Linked DNA regions of Homo sapiens. The protein of the gene in region 1 interacts with the protein of each later gene in a pairwise test. Each region holds a gene or a part of one and is shown on either strand. Other genes may lie near its edges.

Region 1 (7,823 bases):
AAAAAAGGCTACAATCAATAGTCCATAAATAAATATAAACCAATCTAAAGCCTACAGAGAATGTGATCTTTTAAAGCAGAAACACATCCATATAACAACTAAAATGGCAATTACAGCTAAGCTATGGTTTGATATTTACTATTGTCAGATAGAGTGTAAAATTTCATTCTTCAGTGTAGAAGAAATTCCCAGGAAATCTAATTTTCTGCTTCCTCATGCAGAATCCCAAGACAATATCCTGTTTTCAATTTTTATTCAAAAGGAGCAAGGGAATATTACTTCTATCTGAATAGTTAAGTGGTTGTTCTCCTCCTTTAAGCTCTGACATTTTCAAACCAGAAGCTTCTATGTACTGTTATAAAGTGATCTGGAGGTGGAACTCTATATAGAATCACTGCCTCCAGGTCTAGAGTTGAGTATACAGTATACTGCCTATTGCATAAAAAAGGGTGGTGAGAAGCAGGATATGAACATATATATGTATTTGCTTATGTTTTCAAAAGGAAGTGCTGGAAGGATAGGCTAGAAACCAATTAAAAGGGTCTACTCTTATGGAATGGTATGGGGAGATGGAGTGGAGGGGAATGAAAGCAAGACTTCTCTGTGTTTTCTTTTAAAAAATAATTTTTGGCCAGGCATGATGGCTTATCTCTGTAATCCCAGCACTTTGGGAGGCCGAGGCGGGTGGATCACTTGATCTCAAGAGTTCAAAACCAGCCTGGGAAACAGGCTGCAGAGTTTGCAACCAGCCTGGGAAACAAAGCCTCGTCTCTACAAAAAATACAAAAGTTAGCCAGGCATGGTGGTGCATGCCTGTGGTCCCAGTCCCAGTCCCAGCTACTCGAGAGGCTGAGGTGGGAGGATTGCTTGAGCCTAGGAGGTCAAGGATGCAGGGGGCTGAGATCACGCCACTGCACTCCAGCCTGGACAACGGAGTGAGACCCACTCTCAAATAAATAAATTAATAAAATAAAATTTGACTTTTGCAACATGTTTTGCATATTTACAAAATAAATCAACAGAGAAAAAACCCATCCCTGTCCCACCCCACCATGTCATCAAAACAAAACAAAATTCAACAAGAATGGTAACAAACCAAGCTTCTTGTGGGGATTCCCTCTGTGAAGTTTTCAGGACCTGAATCTCCAAGTCTGGAATTAGAGATCACAAGAGCTACCCTACTTAAGTGTGTCCAAATGTAAATATATCTCTCCCCATAGAACTTCAAGAGATTACTCTGAAGCAATGGTACTGTGGAACTCAGGGACACCAACTGCTTTGGTTTACAGCTTTATTCATCAAATTCTATGTATCTTTGAATCTTCCTCAAGCAAACTAAGTTTTTTCTTCCAAATTTCCACCATTATTTCATAGAGCAGAATAAGTGAAATAAGGTCTATATCTAGATATCCCCTCATAATATTTCAGAATACAAAACAACAAAAAAAAGAAGATCCCAAAAGTTTCAGTGTGAAGCTTGAGTACCTTCTTAGCTCAGGAAATACCTATCTATCTATATCTTTAACAATTCCCTCCCTTTCATTTTTTTAGATGACTTTTAAAAATTGACATAAAATTCATGTAACAAAATTCACCATTTTAAAGTGTACAATTCAGTGGTTTTCAGTACATGTACAAGGTTGTGCAGCCATCATCACTACTAATTCCAGAACATGTTCAACACCTCAAAAAGAAATACCATATGCATTAAGTGGTTACTTCTTTTTATTTTTTAAGTTCTATTTTTCTGAGGTTCTTAATAGTAAGGCTTGGCTGGGGGCGGTGGCTCATGCCTATAAACCCAGCACTTTGGGAGGCCGAGGCGGGTGGATCACGAGGACGGGAGATCCAGATCATCCTGGCCAACATGGTGAAATCCCGTCTCTACTAAAAATACAAAAATTAGCCATGAGTGGCGGCGGGCCCCTGTAATCCCAGCTACTCTGGAGGCTGAGGCAGGAGAATCACTTGAACCTGGGAAGTGGAGGTTGCAGTAAGCCGAGACCGCGCCATTGCACTCCAGCCTGGGTGACACAGTGAGACTCTGTCTCAAAAATAAATAAATAAATAAATAAATAAATAAATAAATAATAAATTTCAGGAATAATTTTAATTTCAAAGAGCTATTTCTTGTATTTATTTTTCCAAAACATTTTACTGTTTTATTATTCTGAGCATATTAATAAGATAATTTAAAAACTTTTCTCCTGGTTCTGTTCTTTTCTTTTTCCTTTTTTTTTTTTTTGTCTCACTCTGTTGCCCAGGCTGGAGTGCAGTGGCTTGATCTTGGCTCACTGCAACCTCCACCTCCCAAGTTCAAGTGATTCTCATGTCTCAGCCTCCCATGCAGCTGGTATTACAGGTGGGCACCACCATGCCCAGCTAGGTTTTGTATTTTTAGTAGAAACAGGGTTTCACCATGTTGGCTAGGCTGGTCTCAAACTCCTGGCTTCAAGTGATCCGCCCACCTTGGCCTCCCAAAGTGATAGGATTACAGGCATGAGCCACCATGCCCAGCTTCTCCTGGTTCTTTAAGTTACTTCTCTTTCCTTTAGGGTTAATTTTTCTATTAGTTTAGTTTTGGTCATTTTAATTCATGGTGCTGGTTTTTCCCACATGCTGGAAGATTCTTGGTTGTCTATTCATACTTAGGGCAGAAGGATAGGGAAACTATCCTTTGTAAAAAGGAAATGCTGGAAGGATAAGCCAGAAATGAATTGAAATAATATTTTTTGGTAGAGACAGGGTCTTCCTATGTTGCCCAGGCTGGTCTCGAACTTCTGGGTTCAAGGGATCCTTCTGCCTCAGCCTCCCACAATGCTAGGATTGCAGGCATAAACCACCATGTCCAGCCTAAAATGGTTATTAATATGGGGTGTAGGGCAGGGCAGAGGATAACTATATTCCTTTAGGATGAGTAGGTGGAGAATCAGGATATGAGGTGGTAGAAATCTGAATTCTGGTAAAAGTAAGACTTATTTTGGAGCATCAACTTCCACACTAATTCTTAGTTTTCCCTGAACATTTTGTTCAGTTTCTTTCTAGAAGAACTATGTGGTGTTTTACTTGGCGGAAAGTGTAGGCTGCCTGAGTAGAGGTAGGAGTAAGAAGGGAGGTAGGGGCATAGTGACCACTGGGAACGGCTTCCCACTTATTCAATTAATCTTCCGTTTTCAGCCCCAATTCTCATTTCTGCTCATCTCTGTCCCTAAGCCTTAAGATCTGTTGGGCTGGTCCAGTTCCTAGTTCAGAGTATGTTCTACACATTGCTTCTTGGCTTGTTTTCTCCTTCAACCCACTCATATGTACTTTACAACTTCCAAAAATTTCTGGAAATGTGTTTACTGGTAACCCAATCATGTAATTCTCTTTGGTGTTTTGGTACCTCTATGTTTTTATCTTAATGGACTCTCAGAGAGACAGGAATCAAATGGTGCTGTCTGGTCTACCTTCTTGGAACTTAGTACTTTTAAGGAAAGGGAAAGATTTGACTTTCTATAGAAAATTCCAGAGACACAATAGGACCGGTCAGTTCTATTGTCTCTTATTTTTACATAGTATTTATTTATGAAGAAGCAAAGTGACTATGTAGAACAAACACTAAGTACTTCTTTAATATTTAATAGAAGTTTCATTATTATGGGTTCTTAACTTATATGTGTAGCATCTTCTGTGTTCTGTTATTGCATGTTTCTGAGGGAGTGTTTCACTGCTTTCATCAGAATTCCAAAGGGTTTATAACCTAAAAGAGTTTAAGAACCACAGGACTATATAAATGTACTCTCTCAAGCAGTGTTAAAAAAATTCCCATTCCATGATGATATGTTTACATCTTAGATCTTAACTGCAGGTGTTTAAATCTCAAAAAAATTAATGTTTAAAAATAATTTTGAAGCTGTTTAAAAATCCTAAGGCAACCAGTAAACAAATGACTATATAATATGTTGAGAAGCAGTGGAGTTTCCTTTAGGAACACATTCTTTTTTTTTTTTTTTTTTGAGAGAGACAAGAGTCTTACTCTGCCGCCCAGAATGGAGTGCAGCAGCATGATCTAGGCTCACTACAACCTCCGCCTCCCGGGTTCAAGCAGTTCTTCTGCCTCAGCTTCCTGAGTAGCTGGGATTACAGGCGTGCACCACCATGCCCAGCTAATTTCTGTATTTTTAGTAGATATGGGGTTTCACCATGTTGGCTAGGCTGGTCTTGAACTCCTGATCTCAGGTGATCCGCCCACCTCGGCCTCCCAAAGTGCTGGGATTACAGACGTGAGCCACCGTGCCTGGCCAGGAACACATTCACATGCATTATGCAGTAGCTTAACAAAAGAAAAACTTCACTTGGGGCTTTAGCTCTTTTGTACAGTAGCTGAGAGTACGGAGGGGTGGGGATGCTAGATAATTTTCCAACCTGATGACCTGGATAGCTACTTGGAATATCACCATTTAGGTACAGTGTCAAGTTTTGCACCAGAAGACCCAGTCACTAAGTAAGAGGTCCTGGATGCTGTGGGCCAGTCATGGCAGCTCACACCTGTAATCCCAGCACTCTGGGAGGCCAAGGTAGGAGGATGGCTTGAGCACAGGAGTTTGACATCAGCCTGGGCAAAGGATGACCCCCTTGTAGGTAGGCCCTGTCTCTACAAAAATCACAAAAATTAGCTGAGCATGCTAGTGCACGCCTATAGTCCCAGCTACTCGGGAGGCTGAGGTGGAAGGATCACTTGAGCCTGGAAGGTGGAGGTTGTAGTGAGCTGAGATCACACCACTGCACTCCAGCCTGGGCAACAGCGCAAGAAGATCACACCACTGCACTCCAGCCTGGGCAACAGTGCAAGAAGATCACACCACTGCACTCCAGCCTGGGCAACAGAATAAGACTCTGTCTTAAAAGCAAAAACGAGAAATAAATTCAAAGAAAATGTACGTAAAGAAACAAAAAGTTTACTGCACTCCAGCCTGGGCAACAGAGCAAGACTCTGTCTTAAAAGCAAAAAACAAAAAACAAATACAAAGAAAATATAGGTAAAGAAACAAACAAAAAATCTACAGTCTAAGTTTTTTTAGGCTAAAAAATAAAAAAGATGATGAGGAATTGATTGATATATTAGCCAGGAGCATCAGTGTTCCTACAAAATGAAATTATCAGATATTAACTCTAGTTCTTTGAGGCAAGTTTTGCTGAAGCTACTTAAATGTCAACTTTTGGGTTCTACTTTTGAGTCTGACATCTGGGTAAATGTTACTTCATATAATAGTTCAGGTAATTATTTTATACATATTTTCAAAATAAGCAAAAAATTTAAAAACAGTAATACAGTAAGAAGCAGAGCTGTGTAGATAGCAATGTATGATTTTAACTCTTTATAATTAAACATTAAAATTTGTTCAAAACAGGCAAATAAAAATGTGTGCATTTGCAGAATTATGTTGATACGATGGCTGCAGTCAAGTTCAGCCACACAGCATACATTATACCTGTGATAGCTCTGCTTAAAATCTAAGCTATGGTAGCTTTGGCTGAAATACCTGAAGTAAAAGAGAGAAGCTAATGCTCATTAACGGGTTAAACCCATGTGGTTTTGCTTTGTTCAATAAACTGAAAGTAAACTTTTTTCTGATGATATCTTCAGGACATAGGGAGCAACCTTTGAAGATTAATGATCATCATATAATTTTATATGTGTAAACTGTTTAGCTGACTAGGCTAAATGTACCCTGGAAAAGATGTTTCTGAATAAATTTTGTTTATCTATTTTCATTTGCTTTGTTCAAACAAGATATCACTGGAACGAGTTCAGTTAATCAGGGTTATAGTTCATTGTGGTTTTACTATAAAATATTATAAAGCAAAAGAAACACCAACTACCTACCTAAGCGATGAAATCCAAAGGTGAATCTTTTGGTTGGTGATTTTGATGATAGCCACAAAGCAAGCAGGGTGAGTATGATGGCGCTTAGGTCAGTTAACATATGAAGTGCATCTGTCATGATTGCTAGGCTATTTGCAATGTATCCACCTTAGAGTTACAAGTAGGAGAAAAAAGGAACAAGTTAATTTTTTAAAAAAGCAAGCAATCAAACTAGAAATATGCAATATCCTACAAAACATGAACTTCTAACTAAATCTTTATCCCATTACAATTAAATCAAGGTATTCTGAAATTTCATTCAAAATATTAGATATAGGTTCATTTTTCTGGTGAGAATATCCACTTCTTTTTTTCTTTTTTTTTTGAGACAGAGTCTCACTCTGTTGCCCAGGCTGGAGTGCAGTGGTGCAATCTCAGCTCACTGCAACCTCTGCCTTCTGGGTTCAAGTGATTCTTCTGCCTCAGCCTCCCGAGTAGCTGGGACTACAGGCACGTGCCACCACGCCCGGCTAATTTTTGTATTTTTAGTAGAGACAGGGTTTCACCATGTTGGCCAGGCTGGTCTCAAACTCCTGACCTCAACTGATCCACTCGCCTCGGCCTTGCAAGTGTTGGGATTATAGGCGTAAGCCAATGTGTCCAGCCAGAATATCCATTTCTAGTAACACATGCTGCAAGGAGTCAATGACCTTTAGAAAGTTAAGAACCACAAGGCAAATATATAGTGATTTTGTGTCTTGGTACTGAAGCTTTTGCTTAACTTACTAATTCTACTATTAGTGAATTAATAACCATATCTAAATATTACAACAAAGCTGAAGAAAAGAAGGGTGTTCACTTGTTGAGGGGCGTTGGAACATAAAATTAAACTGAGAAAACCTACAAAATGTACATTAGTTCGATATAAAATATGTAAAAATTAACTGATTCACTTAGCAACATCTCTGAAGAGGGGTACAAAAGGTAGTATTTAGGATACAATTTTTGTTATCGATTTTCCAGGCATTTAATATATATATTATACATTGTTTCATTGTGTGTCTGTATTGTCCCATAATGGACAACCAATTTTCCTAGCACTATTCACTGAATAAGCTTTTATGTGTATCAGAATCACCTGGAGGGCTTGTTAAACTACAAACTGCTTAACTCTACTCCCAGAATTTCTGATTCGGTAGGTCTGGGATGGTGATGGGGATGGGACCTGAGAATGTATATTGCTAACATGCTCCCAGGTAATGCTGATGCTTCAAGTCTTGGAACCACACTTCGAGAATCACTGTTATAATGTACAGCAGAACTGCATGATCAGGTAAGTGTGCTGAGCTGTTGATCCTCCTCATTCCTGAGCTGGGTGTGTAGAGACAAGAGCAGGAGACTAGGGGCTGATGATCTTTTAGTCACATCCATTTACCCCAGAGTGCTCTATACAAATAGCATTTTTATGTATTCCCCGGCATGAAAAAGCTGGAAAGCACCAAGAGAAGGTTGGTGTTAAACAACATGAAGTTTTGGAATCTCAGAAAGTCTGAATGAGTTAATTTTTTTGAGCTTTAGCATACTTATCATTTTATAATGAGGATAATTCCTTAAAGCAATTCTGTCCAATAGAACTTTGAGATGATAGAAATGTTCTGTATCTGAGCTGTCCAATGGTGTAGCCACTAGTCACATGTGGCTTTTCAGCATTTAAAAAATGGCTAGTAAGGTTGGGGCACAGTGGCTTATGCCTGTAATACCAGCTGTTTGGGAGGCCGAGGTGGGAGAACTGCTTGAGTGTAAGAGTCTGAGGCTGCAGTAAGCTTTATATAATGGCACCAGTTCACTCCAACTTGGGTGACAAGAGTGAGACATTGACTAAAAAAAAAAAAGAAAAATGGGGCCAGGTGCAGTGGCTCACGCCTGTAATCCCAACACTTTGGGAGGCTGAGGCAGGCGGATCACCTGAGCTCAG
Region 2 (7,411 bases), on another chromosome or scaffold:
GTATTTTATTATTAGCTAATAGCTTACGGATAAATTAATATTATTCTCCCAGATAGCAGACTAATCCAAGAAACAAGGCCGGGCGTGGTGGCTCAGCACTTTCTGTAATCTCAGCACTTTCGGAGGCCAAGGCGGATGGATCACCTGAGGTCAGGAGTTCGAAACCAGCCTGGCCAACATGGCACAACCCCGTATCTACTAAAAATACAAAAATTAGCCAGGCATGGTGGTGGGCGCCTGTAATCCCAGCTACTCAGGAGGCTGAGGCATGAGAATGGCTTGAACCCGGGAGGCAGAGGTTGCAGTCAGCCGAGATCACGCCACCGCACTCCAGTCTGGGTGACAGAGCAAGACTCCGTCTAAAAAAAAAAAGGAAACAGAGAAATGGAATAATCATTTTGTGATTATACAGTAGTAACTTCTCCAGAATGAAGGGGGAATTTAAATTTCAGAGTTCTGAGTTACCCTACGGGTATCTTAATCACAGGGAAAGCCATTCCCTGACATTTTTGGAGCCTCAAGAAGTAGCAAACTCATGTTTGGAGTAAACCATGTCATTTGCAGAATCACTACTAGTTTTCCCCACCTTTTCCAGCCATAGAGTAAGGTTTATGTGAATTGTCCCAATGGGATTGTGCTGGGCACCCCTTCTAAAAAGTAGTCACCCAAAGCTGTCAAAAAAAAGATATATGGGTACTATGATCAGCCAAAGTCCCCAAATCATGTTGATTCCATGGAGAATGTCATCCAAAAGGTTTTTGTGTTATATGGTCCAAGCTCTACATGCTGATCATCTGTTTTTTCTGCATATGAAAAATAAAGGACTCTATTTGGTATCTGTCCTGGGCAAGTAATTCATTACAGGCTTCTGAATTCACTTATTAGCTTTGCTGGAAATAGAGATAAAATGAATTTTTTTATATAGCATCAGTGGCACAACAGCAACAGAACTGGTTTCTGGGCAACTGTGACAAGTTCCTGGGAAGGTGGTGGAAGAGGGTGGGAAGGGCGAATGTCACACTTTGTTCAGGTAGCTTTATGAATGTTGTTTACCGGATCTGAACTTGGCCTGGCCTTAAGGGCCAAAAAATGGCACAGTTATCTTATGCAATTATTTAAGACTGATCTTGTCCTCGTCTGATTAAGAGCAGCCACCGATTCCTTTGCAGTGTGACTTGCCGGCATGTAAGTGGTGGTAGATACAGGCTTAGTCAAGGACAGAGAAGTGAATGTCTTAATCCTTAGTCAAAGTCTACCTGCCGTTGACACTTTAATCCATATTTCTCATGTAGGAGAGATACAGGGATAATCCTACACCAATTAGGAATTATTACTAAAAAGACAATATCCTTCCTAGAACCTGTGTTTACTCTGCCTAACCTAAGAAATCTTATTTAATGAAACTTGTATGTTTATTTGTTCTTTGATGAACGTTTATTATCTCCTATGTTTAAGTTCTGTGGCAGGCATTTCTATATATTACTACATGAACAAGACATAGTCCCTGCCCTTGTGGGGTCTGTAGTCTCATAGAGAGACAGATATTAAACACATTAATTATCACAAGAATAAATATAGACCTACAAACTGTGACACATGCTATCAAGAAAAAGTATGTGGCCATACAAGTGACGAGTGGACCCAAGTGAGGTAAAAGAGAAGGGCTCTTTGGTAAGCTGAAAACTAAAGAACTGTTGCCTTATCTATGATAAAATAAATTCCTTTTTTAGATGAGAAGCCAGTTTACATTTACATTAGCCTAGAACTTAATTTTACATATAAATACAACACATCATAGATTTTACAGTTTTAATATATGATAAATTTTCTAGGAAAGCAACTACAGTGAAAATCAAAGGAAGATTATCCTTTTTTAAAGAAGTTTTTGTTAGAAACATTACTAAAACTTGTTCAACATTTCAAAAACTTACATCCTTGATGATAGCACCACTCGTTTTTTTTGAAACACTATTACATACCTTCAGTCTGAATGTCAAGCTGTGGTATTTGTATGGATATGAACATACCTTTTAGCCCATATTTTACAATGTTGAATACAATGTTTAAATGTCAACAACATTTAATTGAAATCTGGAATTGGGTTTTATGAGATCAACCACAAATCAATACTTGTGAACATTCCACTCTACCAACACGTTTTTCTTTGTGTGTTTTGCATGTGAATTCTTTAACGTGTGTTGAATGCAGCCTATTTTTCAAGCTAATCAGAAAATAATTAGTGAGTTCTTTGTTGTTGTTTTTTTTTTCACTCTCCCATTCTATTTGAGAAATTCACTTCTTTTCTGATGCATCTCTCAGAAAATATTTGTTGTTCTGACTGATTTGGGTTTAAGGACCAAGCCCTACCTGCACATAGACCTGGAGGTGTTGTGGAGGGAAGATCTTATTATGTCTGTGCTTTTGGTTTGAAAAAGCAGGAGGTCTGTAGGGCTTCATTCATGCAGTTTTGACAGTCCCCTTCTGCTTCCCAGAGAATTCAGAGACTTCTCCCAAGTGCAAGCTTTATTAAGGCTTAGGAGCTTTATTACAAAATGCTGCTTCACTCATAACCATTCACAATTGCTGTGGTGCTTCTGTTGTTGCAAGGATTTCCACTGTACTGACTTCCTAATTTGGGGTTATGTAAAAGGTTTTCAGAAAATGTCTGTGCTCTCTGATCCTGCTTGGAATTCACAGATGCAAAAACTAAATATTGAATCTGTTAATGGAAAATACTCAGGCTTTATAATGAGGCAGACCTAAATTTGAATCCCAGCTCTTGCTCAAGTTAACAAACTTTGAGCCTCAGTTTCTCAACTCCAAAATGGAAATAATAATACTTGCCAGAAATAATGAATGCAGACTGCCTAGTGTAGTGCCTGGCACAGAGCATTACTCAGCAGATGGAAAGTTATTATTAATATCATTTTGGTTCCTAAATCGCCATATTGGTTTATGTATTCATACCATATCTGTCCCCAGAATATTTAAGACCACCAAGTTCACTGAGTTACAGGGATGTTAATAAGGTTATGGATGAATTTTTACAAACCTGTCTCAATCCTTTTAATGGACTTCATTCATCTATATCTGTCCACTGAGGGATTGAAACCAAGTCTGTCTCATTCGCAGTAGAATCCCCAGCACCTAGCACAATGCCTAGTGATACTCAAATAATTGTTTATTGAGTCAATGAACCTAATCTTACTTTTTCCCATTCCCTTTTAGAGGCCGCAAGAGGAGAAATATCCTGTGGGACCATGGCTGTTGGCACTGTTTGTTTTTGTTGTCTGTGGCTCAGGTATGGGTGTTTCACTGAACTTATATCCCATGTTCTCCACTGGCCTTTGAAAAACACACGTTTTCTTCACAAAGCAAATAGATGAAAAACATACTGGTATGGGATTCAAGTTTATCACTGCCTTAAGCCTTAATCTTAATGGGTTTTGATTTAGTTTCTATTCCAAATATAGGTAGAGACACAATTAATACACTATCAAATCCTAATCATAAAATGATTACACTGAGTAGTTAAAGTGGCTGTATACACTGTAGAGTTCAGTAAAGTCTTTTTGTGCAGACATAGCCTTAAAAGGGCATTAGAACAGAAGGTGAAACACCTGTGTGCCTGTGATAAATCCACATTCCGAGAAAGGGAGAGGCCTTATGCCTTATGAGAAAGTTCTGCAGAGCTCCTAGATACAACTTCCTAGATACAACTGAGCCTTTGACCCAAGCCTTAAGGTATGGGTCACCTGATACTGTAAGGTGGCAAGTTGAGAGCTTTACTTACACACATGCAGATACACACATACACACAAATGCAGGGAAGATGAGCAGAAGCATCGTGCCATTGTTTCTAGTTACATGCTGAACTAGCCTTGACATGGTTCCTGATCCCCATATGTTGGGTCTCAGAAATCCTTGTGAGTGGAGGTCACTTCTTCTAACTACACAGCATGCCTTGAGGGATTCCCACCCTCCAGCATCTCACTGTTACTGAGGGCAGGGAGGCAGAAGGTCCACATCTTCCTGCTCAGGCTTAGGCCTCCCAGCAAGACAGCCTCTGCCCCAATGACAAGAGAAGCCCATGACTAAAGATGAATCATGCATTCAAACCTAAAATCATGAAAATTAAAAAAAAAATTTAAGATGGATCAGTTCCTTTTATCTTCAAGAGACCACTCTTCCAAAGAAGCAAAAACTCTTAGGAGGAAGGAAGGATCCAAAGTACTTGGCATTATTGTTGCTTGTGGCTCAAATATTTTAAAGATGATTTGGCATTCCAAGATGAGAAAATCTTACACTCAAAGAAAGACAGTTCTACTCTATTCCCAAAGAAGTATCTTTAAGGACATCTTTTAAACAGCTGTTTACCCAATCCCTATTTGAATACTTCTTCAAAAAGCCTATTCCATGTCTGCTGGAATTCTATTAGAAATGTCTCTCCTGTTTTGAATTACACTATGCTGTCTTCTCAGTTGTTCAGATTTGAACTCCTAGGGTAACACAGAATGGACTCGTTCTCCTCTAAGCACCTTGAATCATCAGATATTTTAAAGATGACTGCCTGGTGGCTCCTTCTGCAAACTAAGCTTCCCTAAATCTCTCGACCTTGCCTCATAAGATGTGGTTTCTAGACTCCTCTTCTGGATCTGCTCAATGACTTTCTTAAAGGGTAGCATTTGGCAGCGCATGCCTGTAATCCCAGCTACTTGGGAGACTGAGGCAGGAGAATCACTTGAACCCAGAAGGCAGAGGTTGCCATGAGCCAGAGATCGCGCCATTGCACTCCAGCCTGGGCAACAAGAGTGAAACTCCGTCTCAAAAAAAAAAAAAAAAAAAAAAGCCAGGCGCAGTGGCTCACGCCTGTAATCCCAGCACTTTGGGAGGCCGAGGTGGGGAGGATCACAAGGTCTGGAGTTCGAGACCATCCTGGCCAACATGGTGAAACCCTGTCTCTACTAAAAATACAAAAAATGAGCTGGACATGGTGGCACGCGCCTGTAGTCCCAGCTACTCAGGAGGCTGAGGCAGGAGAATCACTTGAACTGCAGAGGTGGAGCTTGCAGTGAGCCGAGATCGTGCCACTGTACTCCTTCCTGGGCAACTGAGCGAGACTGCGTCTCAAAAAAAAAGTATAGCATTTGCAACTGCAGAAGGTGGTCTAGAAGCAGTGTGACCACCACAGAGGCAGTAGGATTGTCACTGCCCTTGATTTTGCTCACCACTCTGCCTCTATTAATGTGACCCAGGCTTGCAGTTACTTTTTAACAGTTGCAGCACATCCTTGACTCACGTCTAGCTGATGGCCAGCCAGATGCCACCCAGCTCTTCCTCAGATAAACTTCCTGCAACCCCGGAAACACATCTACATACCCCTTTATCCCAAGTCTCTCCTGTCTCCATCACATATTATTTTATTTTACTCATGACCCTCATCAGCAGTTGCAGTTATTTAGTTTACTTACTTAGGTTCATTTCCCTCCAGTAGGATATAAGCTCAGGGGAGACAGTGTTTATTTTTCATTAAATTTGTAGATCCTAGTTTAGTATTTAGCACATAGTTAGTGCTTAGGATGGATGGATGGATGGATGGATGGATGGATGGATGGATGGATGGATAAAGCCAGATATTCCTCATACTGTAGATATCTAGTTGACCTTTTTTGAGACCTAATATAAAACTTTATGACTTTTTTTTTTATTCTCAAAGAAGAACGATTACTTCTATTAAAATTTTAGGCTGGGCGCGGTGGCTCACGCCTGTAATCCCAGCATTTGGGAGGCCGAGGCGGGCGGATCATGAGGTCAGGAGATAAGACCATCCTGGCTAACACGATGAAGCCCCGTCTCTACTAAAAATACAAAAAAATTAGCCGGACCTGGTGGCAGGTGCCTGTAGTCCCAGCTACTTAGGAGGCTGAGGCAGGAGAATGGCGTGAACCAGGGAGGTGGAGCTTGCAGTGAGCCGAGATTGTGCCACTGCACTCCAGCCTGGGCGACAGAGCGAGACTCCGTCTCAAAAAAAAAAAAAAAAAAAAAAGAACAAAATAAAAACAAACAAAACTATGCCTTTATCATACCACAGGAAAATCAAGAAAATAAACCTGTACAAAAAAGTTAGCTATGTTTTCAGGCTGTATGACCAGTCTGTAGATTGTCAGACCTTGAACTTTAAGCCTCTGATCTACTTACCCTTTTTTCCCAGTGTTATGGTCCCTGAAAATATATTATTCTTCCAAGTCACTGATAAAAGTCTAGACTTGGAGAAACCCACAGAACACAATCAGAGACAACCTCTTTCAGGTTGACTTTGAGCCTCTAAGCAAAACTCATTCAAGCAATCATCATGTCTTGAGGGTCCCCTCTGTGCCTGGCACTGTGCCGGGCTTTGGAAATACAATCCTGTTTGGGTACTTGCAGGCATTGGGAGAGGCAGATAAGGAAGCTGTCAGTTGCAGCCCAGGGAAAGCGCACTGCGATAGTGACAGCAGAGTTTACAGGGTGCTTGGCTGGCATGGATAAGGAACTTCTAAATCATACTCAGCAGAAGAGAAAGTTTCCAAGGGGAGGTGCTGTTTGAGCGGAGTCTTGAAGAACAAACAGCCAGACAAAGGGTGTGAGGAAGGTGATTCTGCATGGGAACACTATGTGGCGGTGGCATGGTGGCTTCAGAGAATGTGCTGGGCTCAAGAATATAAGGTGCTCAGAATGGCCAAAGCCTACTCTCAGGCATCCCTGAGCCCCGTGACCATGCCACCTGTATTGTCAAGGGTCTAAGTAGATAAAGATATATATAGGCTTCAAGATACACAGTAACTGTGGCCTTCTCCAGTCTGCCCCCTTAGGCAGCCTATAAGGGAAAAAGCCAGTAGAGTCATTTGGCGTGGCTTATTTTTCTCAAACCCATGCCAACTCTCAAAACCCATCTCTTCCTTTTTGGAGGGTTTAAAAAACTATTATATGGCCTAAACTTTTGCCTGGCTTACCAGCCCATGCAGCAGGACCTGTATCTTTCCCTCTTGGGTAAATTGGGACATTTGCTAACAAGCATCTTTTAGAACTCTCCTGGTCTCCAGCAGTTTCCTAGGGATTGAGTATGTTAGCTCCACCTCTCTGGAGGTTTGCGTTTTTTTTGTTTTTTTTTTTTTGAGACAGAGTCTCGTTCTATTGACAGGCTGGAGTGCAGTGGCGCAATCTCGGCCCACGGCAACCTCCACCTCCCAGGTTCAAGCGATTCTCCTGCCTCAGCCTCCTGAGTAGCTGGAACTGCAAGCACGCACCACCATGCCCAGCTAATTTTTTTTTTTTTTTTTTAGTAGTGACGGGGTTTCACCATGTTGGCCAGAATGGTCTTGATCTCTTGACCTCATGATCCGCCCACCTTGGCCTCCCAAAGTGCTGGGAT
Region 3 (7,411 bases), on another chromosome or scaffold:
CAGCGATGGCACTGCAGGGCCACAGCCTGGTTTACCTGCCATGCTTCCAGTTGTCCTTCTGGTAGGCGCCTGGCCCGGGTTGTAGTTTGAAGAGTGAGCAGGAAATGTCTCCATCCAGGTGGCTGCAGATGGCTACTCACCCAGGCTGTACTGAGAGGCCACAGTCCCAGTTCTGGTCCTCTGTCGTGTATCCAGGAGTGGCAGGGCAGTGAGGCTCTAGCTTCTAGGTCAGGGATGGGGACAGTGGGGACAGTGCCATGCCCCGAGCCTCTGCCGTTGGGCAGCTGGTATCCTGCTTCCAGCCAGAGAATGCACATCTTCATGTAGTGGATTTCCTAACAACCCGGGGAGATGAAGGTAGGTTGTTTTTCCTGTTTTACAAGTGGTAAAATGAGATTCAGGGCTAGAGTTCTCTGAGCAGCTGCTTCTCTGATCTCTGTCCTGCCCTTGGCCTCTGGGAGCTCTTATGGTTCCTCAGCAGAGTTCACAGGGCTCTTGGAGCCTGTCCTTCGGCCTTGAGCTGAGGCCACAACTGCGCGCACTTCATAGGCTTGAGGGGAAAGTGATTCATCCAGGAAGTAAACAGTGAGCCCTTTACTCTGAGAACACCTGTGCCTGGAGTCCGCCGGAGTTTGGGAGGACAAATGAACCCCATGTGAATCCTGTTCCCTGGAGCCCGCAGTGTGGTGGGAGAGGTGACCCAGGGATTATATAACTAATAGGAGGTAGCATGAAGGAGGCCTGAGATCTCACTACCCTTGCCTCCCCCTCCTCCAGAGAGGCTGTGCTGGAGAGAGGCCATGCTGTTGCAGGGCCATAGGATGTGGTACTGTTGGCCTGGAAGATGTGGTTTGATTACAGTCACCATTGAGGGTCAGGGAGGGGAGCGAAGCTCTCCTTTAGATGCCCCCCCACCCGATTTTTTTTTTTTTTTTTTTAGCTGGGCCTGAGAATTTGATTCACCTAAGAGAGGTCCACAGGAGACAAGCACACACATTTATTTAATTCAAGTTTTACCTGGCATGGAAGAACCTGTGAGAGTCAGTTACTTATTTACTGAATTAGACCAAGTAACTCATGAAGAAGCAAGTAACTATGTGAGGAGCTAAAAAGATGAGAGTGGATCCATTCTAACATGGTCTGCACAGTACCCTCTTGGCCTCGACTTCTCATCCTTAAAAATAAGGAAATTGTCAGCTGGGTGCGGTGGCTCACGCCTGTAATCCCAGCACTTCGGGAGGTCAAGGCAGGTGGATCACGAGGTCAGGAGATCGAGACCATCCTGGCTAACACAGTGAAACCCCGTCTCTACTGAAAATACAAAACAATTAGCGGAGTGTGGTGGCGGGTGCCTGTAGTCCCAGCTACTGGAGAGGCTGAGGCAGGAGAATGGTGAGAACCTGGGAAGCAGAGCTTTCAGAAAAAAAAAAAAAGGAGATTGTCCTATGTTTCCCTGGGGACTTTCATCTCCTGCTTTTAGGAAACACAAAAGAGGTCAAAGGATCTTCTTGCACCTGTTGTTTTTCAATAGCCTTTAATTCATAATAGTCAATTGACCAGGGTGGGCAGGGTGCGATGGCTCACACCTGTAGTCCTGCCAAGACAGGCAGATCACTTGAGCCCAGGAGTTCAAGACCAGCCAGGGCAACATAGCAAAACCCGGTCACAACAACAACAACAAAAAACCAAACAAACAGAAAAACAGAAAAACACAGAAAATTATGTCGTGTGAAGGAATCCACACAGAATGCTTACCATCTGATTCCATTTCTCATTAAAATTCGACCAATCTATTCTGACAAAAAGCAGAATTATTGCTGGGGACATAGGAGCAAAGCGGAAGAGAGGATTACATTGAAGAATGAAGAAATTCTGGGGTGTGGTGGACATGTCATTTTCTTATCGTGGTGGTAGTTCCACAATGTATACACACGTCTCAATCTACCAAACTACATGCTTCAAAAATGTACACTTTGTTTCATGCCCATTATACCTCAATGAATCCATTTTTAAAAAACCTTCAATAGAATGTAAACACTTGAGTGTATACTGTATTCCCTATAGCACTTGCACATAGATCATGGAAATAGGTATGCATAAAAAGTCAGTTTATCCAATTAAAATGGAATTCTAAAAGGTAATTAACATTAAAATGTGCAGGGGGAAAAGGAGTAAAAAAATTAGACTAGACAATCATAGCTTAAATGGTAAACTTACAGGTCTATTTCAACTATATCAATTATTGCACTCCCTGTAAATCCACTGAGCACTACAGTTCAATGGTAGAAATGTTTGGAAGGGCTGAGAAAGCAAGACTCAACTATATCTTGTCTATATGAGATGGGCCTTAAAAGGAAGACACAGATGTTGTCTGTTGAAAGTAAATAGATGGAAAAAGATACACCATGCAGAGTGTAAGGCCAAGAAAACTGCCATGGCTATCTCAGTATCAGATGAAGTTGATTTTGTTAGCGGTGGATGAGATCCGAGTTACCCTACGTTGAAGGCGGCGAATCCGTATGCGTCCACAGCACCTTCAGCTCTTCGCCTCCTGAGAAGAAAGAACTGGTTTGAGGGGCATAAGGCAGAAGCAGAGATGGAGGCAAGTTTCAGAGCAGGAGTGAAAGTTTATTAAAAAGCTTTAGAACAGGAAGGAAAGGAAGGAACAGGAAGGAAAGGAAGGAACAGAAAGAAAAGAAGGAAAGTACACTTGGAAGATGGCCAAGCAGGTGACTTGAGAAACAGTACGCAGCCGGACCGCCTGAGTTGGGGTTTTATAGGTTGGCCTACTTCCAGGATCTTGCCTTACTTCTCCCCACTCCTGAAATCTTATTGGGAAGCTGCTGATCAGTTTCAAGTGTTTTCTATGTATTAGGAAACTGCTTTTTTCTGGCATCGGCTGTAACCAGTTATTACTTTAGAGACACAGTTATCAACTACCTGATGGTCGCCCAACACTGCTGGTGTCAGAAGCGGGGACCCCTCTCCTGTCCTGCTCATACCTAACTAGCTGCCTACTGTGACAATTTTAGGACATTGAATATTATGGGAGATGAAAAGGGACCTTTGTAGTTAAAAGGGTTAATTCTTCAAGGAGTATAATAACAACAAATTGTATATGCCTAGTAATACATCTTCAAAACACATGACACAAAAATAGAATTAAAAAGAGATTAACTCAGCTGTTTCTCTGCACTTGCTAGCATGATTAGATGAAAATGCCAGTAAAGTGGCAAGCGATCTGCACACTATCAACCACCTTGATTTAACTGACATTTAAAGAGCAGGAGTGGAACATTCACTGAACACTCATTCCTTTCTATGCTCATGATACTTTCACCAAGATAGACCAGGTTCTGGGCTATAAAACACACAATATGATCTCTAAACTTAATGAAACTAAACTGGAAATCAGTAACAATATCCACAGAGAATTCTAAAATTTTGATATTGAACAACACACTTCTAAAAATCTGTGGTTCAGACAGGAAATCAAAAGGGAAGGTAAGATATTTCAAAGTAAGTAATAATGACAATATAACACATCAAAAGTGGTGCGAAATAGCTAACAGTGCTCAGGGTGAAATATACAGCTTTCAATGTTTGTATTAAAAAACTGGGGGTTAGGGAGATGGGGAGTTACTGCTGAAGGGTATGTAGTTCCTTTCTGGAGTGATAAAAATATTCTAAAATTGATTATAGTGATGATTGCATAGCTATGAGTATATTAAAAACTGCTGAAGTGTGGACTTTAAATGGGTGAATTATATGAATAATCATAATTATTAATTATGTGAATTGTGTCTCACTAAAGCTGTCAAAAAAAGAAAAAACGTGAAAATTATGGGCCGGGCACGGTGGCTCACATCTGTAATTCCAGCACTTTGGGAGGCCGAGGAGGGTGGATCACGAGGTCAGAAAATCGAGACCATCCTGGCTAACACGGTGAAACCCTGTCTCTACTAAAAATACAAAAAATTAGCCAGGCGTGGTGGCGGGCACCTGTAGTCCCAGTTACTTGGGAGGCTGAGGCAGGAGAATAGCATGAACCTGGGAGGTGGAGCTTGCAGTGAGCCGAGATTGTGCCACTGCACTCCGGCCTGGGAGACAGCGAGACTCCATCTCAAAAAAAAAAAAGAAAAAGAAAAAGAAAATTATGGCCTGAGGAGCTACATTAATCAATCATAAAATATAAGTGTAAATTTAAACCAAACAAAGTAACAGGAAGGAGCATAAATCAAAGAATACAAACCACAGAAAGAACTGAGAAAACCAACTGTGTGCGGTGGCTTACGCCTGTAATCCCAGTACTTTGGGAGGCCCAGGCAGGCAGATCACTTGAGCTCAGGAGTTAAACCACTCTGGGCAACATGGCGAAACCCCAGCTCTACAAAATATGTGAAAATTAGATGGGCGTTGTGGCACACACCTGTCTTTGGGGACTGAGGTGGCAGGACCACTTGAGCCTGGGAGGCAGAGGAGGCAAAGGTTGTAGTGAACCGAGATTACACCACTGCACTCTGCGCTCCAACATGGAGGACAGAGGGAGACCCTGTCTCCAAAAAAAAAAAAAAAAAAAAAAAAAAGACAAAATGAAAAGTTGGTCTTCTGAAAGGATTTTAAAAAACACTAATAAACCCCTCATTAAATGAGAGGGAGTAAGAGTGTGAGAGCAGAGAAAGGAGACGCAGACATCGCCTGAACCTAGAGGGACTCCAACCCGGGAAAGAATGATTTGGGAAAAGTGGGTTAGCTTCACTGTCACCAACTGCTAGTCAGGCTTTGATGTGGAAGAAAGCTACATTTTGTCTTGTTTAGATCCAGGCAGTTGAACTGAGCCCAACATAAGCAGCTTTCATTGTAACCATTTTGGTTTTGCTTAAATTAATTTCCTACTTTAAAACACTCCCAACTTAAAGAAAAGTTACAAAAACTATACAATAAAAACATTTGAAAAAATGGCTGTTGGCATGATGAAAGCTATTATTGAATTCTTTAGTGTGTACTTTCTACAAACAAGGAAATTAACATCAACACATTACCACTATCTATCCGCACTCTATTCCGATTTCTCCAGTTGTCTTCTAGTTGTCATTTATAACATAGAGATCATGGCCAGAATCCCTGAATTGCTGTTTCATCTTTTTTGTCACTCTTTGATATTTAGTGGGAGCAGCTTGACAAGGTCCTTTGTAAAGCAGTAATTAATTACTTAATGTTTGATGCTATATCCTGACTTTCTGTAAGGTTATATATATTATAACCTTCATTTGTAAAGCTGAGTATGTTTAAGTGTGTGTCTGTGTGTATTTGTGTGTGTGTGAGTGAGAGACAGAATTCACCTATTGGTCAATTAAACACTTGGTGAAACTAAATATATTAAATGCTATTTCTGCATGAAGGGCTCATATGTGTGTGGTTTTTTAAAATTCTTATAAAATCTTTTCTTTCCAACCATGGTGGCATGTGCCTCTTATCCACATTTCTTGGGAGACTGAAGCAGGAGGATCACTTCAGGCCAGGAGTTCAAGCCTATAGTAAGATATGATCACACCTGTGAATAGCCACTGCATTCCAGCCTGGGCAACATAGCAAGACTCTGTATCAAAAAAACAAAATAGCTCTTCTTGCTCCCATTATCTGGGGTAAATTTATGTTATAATATGAGAAAAGGATACATAAGTGTTTTTCTTTTTCTTTTCATTTTTTCTTTTTTTTTTTTATTTGAGATGGAGTCTCGCACTGTCACCACATTGGAGTGCAATGGCGCGATCTTGGCTCACTGCAACCTCTGCCTCTCAGGTTCAAGCTATTCTCCTGCCTCAGCCTCCTGAGTAGCTGGGATTACAGGTGTGTGCCACCACACCCAGCTAATTTTTGTATTTTTAGTAGAGACAGGGTTTCACCGTGTTGGCCAGGATGGTCTCGATCTCTTGACCTTGTGATCCACCTGCCTCAGACTTCCACATTGCTGGGATTACAAGCTTGAGCCATCGCGCTTGCCTGTATTTTTTTTTTTTTTTATAGAAAATAGCTGGCCCTAACAGGCCAAGGGACAAACACAGGTATGAAAGAATGAAAGTTTGGAGCTGGAAAAAATGTCCAAGCTCTGATGGGTTTTGTCACTTGGGGTGAAGGGAATGTGAGATGGAGCCTGGGAGGGGTGAGGTCTGGAAGTCACTCACACCCATCACTCCTTTGTCCCCACAGGTCCTAGCTTACTCTGCCACCACTGCCCGGCAGGAGGAAGTTCCCCAGCAGACAGTGGCCCCACAGCAACAGAGGCACAGCTTCAAGGGGGAGGAGTGTCCAGCAGGTGCACTCTTATTTTTAAAAATCAGTTTATTTTTAATTGACAGATAAACATTGTATGTATTTATGATGTACACCATGATGTTTTGAAATATGTACGCATTGTGGAATGGCTAAATCAAGCTAATTCACATACTTAATCATGTATTCGTGGTAAGAACACTTAAAAATCTGCTCAGCAATTTTCAGCTGTATGGATACAGAGCCCTGGGATAAGCCCTCTTTGCCCTTTTTATCTGTGGGTTCTGTAGCCTTCCTTATCTATGGGTTCTGTATCCATGGTTGCAACAAACCACAGATCAAAAATATGCGGAAGAAATAAAAATGATAATACATCAATAAAAGCAGATAAAAAGCAATGCAGTATAGCACTTATTTACATAGCATGTCTATTGCATTAGGTATTACAAGTAATCTAGAGATGATTTAAAGCATATGTGCGTGGGTTTTATGCAATACTATCCCAATTTATATCAGGGACTTGAGTATATGCAGAGTTTGTTCCATGGAATATATTCCCTGTGGATAGAAGGCAGGACTGTACAACACATTGTTTTAATAACTGTAGTCGCCATGTCACACAATACATCTCTTGAATTTATTCTCCCTGTCTAACTGAAATTTTGTATCCTTTGACTAACATCTCCCCATCCCACCATCCAACTCAAGCCCTGGTAATCACCATTCTGCTCTCCACCTCTATGAGACCAACTTTTTCTGATTCCACATATGTGAGATCATGAGGTGTTTGCCTTTCTGTGCCTGGCTTATTTCACTTAGCATAGTATCCTCCAGCTTCATCCATGCTGACACAAATGACAGAACTCCCTTCTTTTTAAAGGCTGAATAGTATTCCATTGTATCTATGTGTCACATTTTCTTTAACTTTTCATCCATCCATGGACACGTAGGTTGATTCCATGTCTTGACCATTGTAAATAATGCTCCAATGCATATGGGAGGGAAGATATCTCTTCAATATACTGACGTCATTTCCTTTGGATGTATACCCAATAGTGGGATTGCTAGATCATATAGTTGTTCTATTTTTTGTTTTTTGAGGAACCTCCATACTGTTTTCCATAATGGCTGTACTAAT

What was found.
Region 2: the proteins of SLC30A4 (region 1) and SERP2 interact in binary tests that used the Homo sapiens proteins (3 or more experiments, as listed by UniProt).
Region 3: the proteins of SLC30A4 (region 1) and TNFRSF10C interact in binary tests that used the Homo sapiens proteins (3 or more experiments, as listed by UniProt).

Annotation. Positions count from the first base shown.
Region 1 is NC_000015.10:45,505,269-45,513,091, forward strand, and holds part of SLC30A4 (probable proton-coupled zinc antiporter SLC30A4), read right to left. Parts: intron 6,017-7,823; coding exon 5,870-6,016; exon of another isoform or gene 5,868-5,869; intron 3,743-5,867; coding exon of another isoform or gene 3,681-3,742; exon of another isoform or gene 3,590-3,680; intron 1-3,589. UniProt on the Homo sapiens protein: Probable proton-coupled zinc ion antiporter mediating zinc import from cytoplasm potentially into the endocytic compartment. Controls zinc deposition in milk.
Region 2 is NC_000013.11:44,376,413-44,383,823, forward strand, and holds part of SERP2 (stress-associated endoplasmic reticulum protein 2), read left to right. Parts: intron 1-3,228; coding exon 3,229-3,301; intron 3,302-7,411. UniProt on the Homo sapiens protein: Interacts with target proteins during their translocation into the lumen of the endoplasmic reticulum. Protects unfolded target proteins against degradation during ER stress. May facilitate glycosylation of target proteins after termination of ER stress.
Region 3 is NC_000008.11:23,105,510-23,112,920, forward strand, and holds part of TNFRSF10C (tumor necrosis factor receptor superfamily member 10C precursor), read left to right. Parts: intron 1-6,210; coding exon 6,211-6,316; intron 6,317-7,411. UniProt on the Homo sapiens protein: Receptor for the cytotoxic ligand TRAIL. Lacks a cytoplasmic death domain and hence is not capable of inducing apoptosis. May protect cells against TRAIL mediated apoptosis by competing with TRAIL-R1 and R2 for binding to the ligand.